Regions from separate parts of the Homo sapiens genome. Here region 2 is linked to region 1. Evidence: fine-mapped expression QTL. Tissue or cell type: skeletal muscle. Region 1 holds a variant in brackets; the other region holds the start of a gene. All regions are shown on one strand. Distances are between the middles of the regions.

Region 1 (2,684 bases):
CTTGATTTGGTTGGATGTTAAGTCAGGTTTTATTTATATTTGGTATATGGTATCTAGAAAGCACTTATCATGAAGAATCTCACTTCATTTAAGGTTAGTGCTTTTTTATTTGTTTTGGTTCTAGGTTTTTGTTTTGTTTTGTTTTAGATTAGCTTCACTATCTTGTGATTTCCAGAGGCTGATGTATTACTGTGAAACATTCCGATATGATTTTTCCTTATTTTTTCTTTTTACTGTTACACATCTTCCCATCAAATTCATTTGAGATTCTTGGAACGATGTTTATAGTTACTGACTAAAATAAAACTTTAATCTCTTTCTTTGGAAGTACAGTATTTTTATATTGTGAATTATACAGTTTTAATTTATGCCTTCAGACTAAAATTTGCAGGTTTGATAACATAGTTTTAAATATATTCAGTCAAAATATGAATATTTTCAAGTTTAACCTAGTTGAGTCCTCTTATAAAACGTTGAGCTGTAACATTAGTTCTTCATGGCCTCTCATTTGTATTAATGTGACGTTCTTGATCATAACCTTTGAAGATAAAATTCATTTGGGGGGCAGCTAAGATTCTCCCTACTCTTTCTAATTATGTTGTAAAACTCCAAACTTAGGAAAGGATATCTTTTGGAAGGCATGCCTTATGAGTACAAAATTATTATTTTGCTTATGAGATGCAGGATTTTTAAATGGGCATTTACATCTTGTGTATCATGTTAGCTGTAGAGTTTTTGTTTGTTTTAAAATAATTCTGAGAACTTGGGCAATTCTGTGATGATCCTTGGGAGCTCTTGGTAGGAGATATCATTCCTCTTGGATCTGTAGCTCTGTGATGCATGTATATAAGCATGCCTTTGTTCTCAAAAGTCTTTTTCTATCTGATTACTGTGGTATCCAGTGCTTTGTCTTTGCCTCTCTTCGTTTTTTGTTTTGTTTTTTTCCTTGCGCCTTAGCCGGTCATTTGTGTGATGTTTACATTCAGCAGAGAGGTATTTAGAGCATTTTTGGTGAGAGAAAGGAGTGATAGAGGAAGTAAAGAGAAATTCAGACTGGGGTGGCTGTGAGGGATAAAGGGGGGAAGAAGTAGGAAAAGAAAACAGGAGTGGGTCCAAGGGAGGAAGAGCAAGCAAAGACAGAACACCGGCTCTACAGGGGCTGCGCCGTGGGGGTTCCTGAAATCTTGGGGGCTGGCTGTGGGGGAGGGAGCTCAACAGACCAGCATTTTCCCCAGGCTTGGGCGCAACCTTGTGAAACTACTAATGTATTAAAGAACCTCAGCTGGGATTTGCTGAGGACAAATGCTGTAACGTGTTAGTCATCCATTATCTGCTTCTATTTTTGCAGGTTCTGAATGATGACTGACGCGGGTTTGGGTGATACCCCTCACAGCCCCTGTCATTCCGGAGT[C/G]ATAAGGCACCCGCGCGTCTAGCCCCAGCGCCAGGGCACGCGAGCGGCGCTGGAGGGAGGAAAGCTTCCGCCTGCGGGCCGGACAAAAGTCCCGCCTGCCCACGGCTTTTTGCCCGCCGCTCGTGACCGAGACGCCTCGCCGCGGCCAGCTCGCTGCTCTCGCTGGCGGATGGTGTGTGGCCGCCGCAGGACGCCCGCCGTGCCCGGGCCATGAAGTAGCGGCTGCTGGCGGCGCCGCTGCCCAACCGCCAGCCCCAGCCCCGCGCTGCGCTGCCCGGTCCTCTCCCGGCGGGGTCGTATCGGCGTGGACATGGCTGGCCGCGTCCCTAGCCTGCTAGTTCTCCTTGTTTTTCCAAGCAGCTGTTTGGCTTTCCGAAGCCCACTTTCTGTCTTTAAGAGGTGGGTGTTCGTTGTTCGGGTGCTTTCTGTGCATGCTGTTGAGAAATGTAATCACTTTTATGAACCTGAGTGTTGGCAAAATAGACGGGGTTGATGTTCTTTGCTGGAATGACTTGGAATTTTACCACAGTAACTTCTTGTGAAGTCCCCCGTGCAGAAAAAGCCCACTGCATTGTAGCCAAGCAGTTCTGGCTTTCAAAACTCCAATTAGAAGTTGTGATTTCCAAAACTAATCACTCCCTCTGGGGGAGGTATTTCAGGAACTACAATATATTCGCTTAGTTTTGAATGCCTGCTTGTTTATAACAGCTCGAAGAATAAAATATAAGGATACATCAGTGTCGAGGAGAAGCAGATCATAGACTGTAATAGCTCACAAGGAAACACTGAGCTGTATACAAACGCCTCATAATTACTTTATTAAATATTTATGTACTTGTACATTTGTAATTCACATCGCAGTCTTTTATTTCTTCCTCCTAACAGCTCTGCCTCCTAGCAAGATTATGGTTGGCTTTCTTGTTTCTAGCTAGTAATTCTGGACACTGAAAATAGTTACAGAAATTTTTACTGGGTCATGGTTAATATTTCTGCCATTAGAAAATTGGCATGCCTGTGATAATTTGTAATGTATTAATACTATATCTTCATTAACTTGAAACAGATATATGTTTTGACATATTTTTATATGACATAATTTTTTATAAATTTTCAATAAAAACAAGTTTTTATTGAATGGAGTTTTAAATGTAGCCTGGTTGATTGCATTGGTTATATTTTATTTACAAATTAGGTATATATTGTTATTGGACTATAAAATGAAAATCTGAGTATGTTTACGAACATTGTGTAGTCATCACATCTTTAGAGTTTT
Region 2 (2,684 bases), 110 kb before region 1:
TGTCCCTTCTCACAACCTCCCTGCTACCACACCAGATTCTGAAGGGGAGGAGTTGTCTGGAAAGACCAGAGCTGGGTGCTGGGGATCTGGAGCAGCTCGGGACCCGCGCTGCAGGGAGCTGGGATGGGAGAGGTGAGGGAGAGGAGGATGGGACTCTGGGAGAAAGAGAGGGGGCTGGGCTGGCGCTGGGGATGGAAGAGGCGAGGTGAACGCACTCAAGCGGTTACCTGCAGACAGGGAGAGACAGTGGCAAATACCTGCCTTCAATTAAACGCATATCAATTTGTGTGTGGGGTCAGTACTGCACATCATCAAGCCTCTTGGGTATAAAACCTTCCTACTGGAACTCTCCAGCCCCGCCCCCACCACCCCACGCGCGGCTCCCTGCTTTCTCTTGCTTTGGGGTGAGGCTGGGGATGTGGGTGGCTCCAGAGTTCCCTGCCCGCAGTTTAGGGGCGAAGTGATCGGTGTGTGCGCGCTGGGCACTCTGCGGGTTAAAAAGGTTTAGCAGAAAGGGATGCAGATGGAGGCGGGAAGCCAGGCTAAGAAAGGGATACCGACCTCCCTCCTCGGGTCGGAGGTGTGAACTGGGAAGCACTGCGCAGACCTGAGCGAGGTGGCCTGAATCCAGGGGCCGGGCAAGGGGGTGGTGTGAATAGAAATAGCACATTTCCCAGGCTTTCAGCCCCGGTACTCTGCCATCCTTCCAGTTCCATGCACTCAGCCAGGTCTCCAGGCTGGAGCAAGGGCTGGGGGTCAATGGGTCCTTCCTTCTCTCGGGAAACGTTCTTCTGGCGCGAAGCTGGGCGGAGGGAGAGTCGGACATTTTCCTCTGCTTCTCTCAGGGCAGCTGGCGTGGCCACCTCGCAAGGCTGCTTCTAGGGACACGAGACTCGGGAGGGTCAGAGACTTTCAGGCCGGGCCTTCACTCCCTTCCCCGGGGCACTTGGGCAAGAGTTCCAGCTCTTGGCTACCTCTGGCCCGCGCGTGAGTTCAGACACCCAGCACACGCGACCCCCGCAGGGAAACCCCGGGAAGCTGCGCGCAATCGCTGGGGACTCGCCAGGGCTCCACTTCCCAAGCTCCGCGCCCCCTGCGCCCAAAGAGGCAGGGCGGAGCAGAGGCCGCCGGCGTGGAGGAGGCGAGCGCGGGGCTGGCCCGGGAGCCGCCCCCGGGGAGGGACTGAGACCTGCCCCAGGAGTCGAGGGCGAGCGGCGGACCCGGCTGGGCCCGGCGCACGCCGAGGAGAGGGAGCCCCCGCCACCGCCGCTGCCTCCGCGTGCTCAGCCTGTCCCCGCCCAGGGAGCCGGAGCCTCCAACTAACTCCGCCCGCCGCTCCGCCGCCCGCAGGCTCCGGCTTCCGTCCCGGACAGAGCCCGTGGTCGCGCAGGTTGGTGTTGTTGCCGCTGCTGCCGCCACTGCGAGGCGGTCAGGGCAAGGGTGAGGGTGGGGGCGCGGAAGGGGGCCTGGGCTCGGGATCCTGCTGCCACCAATTCCTGGTGCCCCAGGAGGTTGTTGCTTTTTCTCCCGGGCTGCCCGGGTCGGGGGTGGGGGGATGGGGCGGGGATCCAGCGATGCGGCCAGGGAGGATTTTGGGGACTGAGCTATTCTCGCATTTCCCAAACCTCTCTCACGACCCTTCATCACCATTATTAAGTCCCTGGCCAGTTTGTGAGGGGTCGTCCTCCCCTCCGGTCCTTCTCACCTCCGCACTTCTCCTTGTGCCCTCTCCCTAGGGGGTACAATTTGTTCATTCGCCTTTTCTGCCCCCAACTTGGAGAACTCTCCGTGACGCCTAGAAAGCCTCCTCGGTTCTCCGCCCGCCCTTCAGTCTAGTTTGGGGAAGTAGAGGCCGCCGCGGAGTAGCAACCTGGGGTGTGGAGTGGGGGCGAGTGCCGGGAAGCAGTGGAAATTCCTTCCCCTCTTTCTTTCCCGTCCTTGCCCAGCTTTGCTCTCTTCCTGCCGTTTTGCCAGCCTCCGAATGTAATACGCGGGCGAAGGGCGATCTCCAAGGCAGAATGGGAAGTATCCACCACTTGGGATACTAGTTAAGTCTAGGTTCAGTCACCTTCCCAGCTCTGTGGCCTTGGGACCCGCCCCATCGGAACCTGTATGTTGTCATCTGCAAAATATGCGTCAGCTCTGCCTGCCGCTGAGGGTAGTTGTGGGGCTCCCTTGGGATGACTTAGGGTATTACGTGATTTTGAGCACGGTCTCTTGTCTCGTGCAGCTGCCTGATGGCAGGTCCTGTGTTCTGATCGTCTGAGTTCAGGTCCTTTGGCTGAGATGTGATTATCTCTCTGGGTGATTTGGTCAGTAGCTTTGCGGGGCTAAAAGGCATGTGTTCCTGGAGCTGGTCATTGGGGTTCAGAGTTGAAATCGTGTCGTCCCCACCAATCCCTGTGTACAAAGCTATGGACCTTACATCCTGTGCCTTTGTGGTCATAGAAATTCAAGTAGAAGGAAGATCTTATTGGACTTTGTTTGCTTCAGATGTTTTACATTCTTTACAATCGCTTTTCTCTTCTAGGTGCAAACTTAAATTTACTGCTAATTCTAATAATCCAGGAAGGATACTTTCATTTTAGTAAAATCAGACATTTAGCTCAAATAACATGTGACATATTGTTTGTAAATTTTCAGTTTATAATCACAGGCACAAAAAAGCATAGTTCATGCCATTC

Alleles and levels. Positions count from the first base shown, and alleles are read on the strand shown. Sizes are in standard deviations (SD) of each study's normalised expression.
As copies of G replace C in region 1, the expression in skeletal muscle of the gene that starts at base 1,347 in region 2 goes down (small effect, 0.13 SD a copy in GTEx).

What was found. PIP is the estimated chance that this variant, and not a neighbour inherited with it, causes the effect.
Region 2: it holds the start of PAM, and the variant in region 1 is fine-mapped to the expression of PAM in skeletal muscle (GTEx, PIP 0.97). The same link has a PIP of 0.9 or more in macrophages, monocytes, monocytes after LPS, monocytes after Pam3CSK4, monocytes after R848 and monocytes after interferon gamma.

What each region holds. Positions count from the first base shown.
Region 1 is chr5:102,864,475-102,867,158 of GRCh38, forward strand. It overlaps PAM (peptidylglycine alpha-amidating monooxygenase), which reads left to right. Exons shown (of 26, transcript NM_001177306.2): 2 at 1,349-1,810. The coding sequence starts at 1,722. Among named protein-coding and RNA genes, the nearest start is that of PAM, 110 kb to the left of the region's middle. RefSeq lists a silencer at 1,642-1,771. The variant C/G (reference allele first, on the strand shown) is at 1,412.
Region 2 is chr5:102,753,959-102,756,642 of GRCh38, forward strand. PAM (peptidylglycine alpha-amidating monooxygenase) reads left to right here and starts at 1,347. Exons shown (of 26, transcript NM_001177306.2): 1 at 1,347-1,390. RefSeq lists enhancers at 376-901, 1,909-2,409, 1,981-2,070 and a silencer at 1,041-1,590.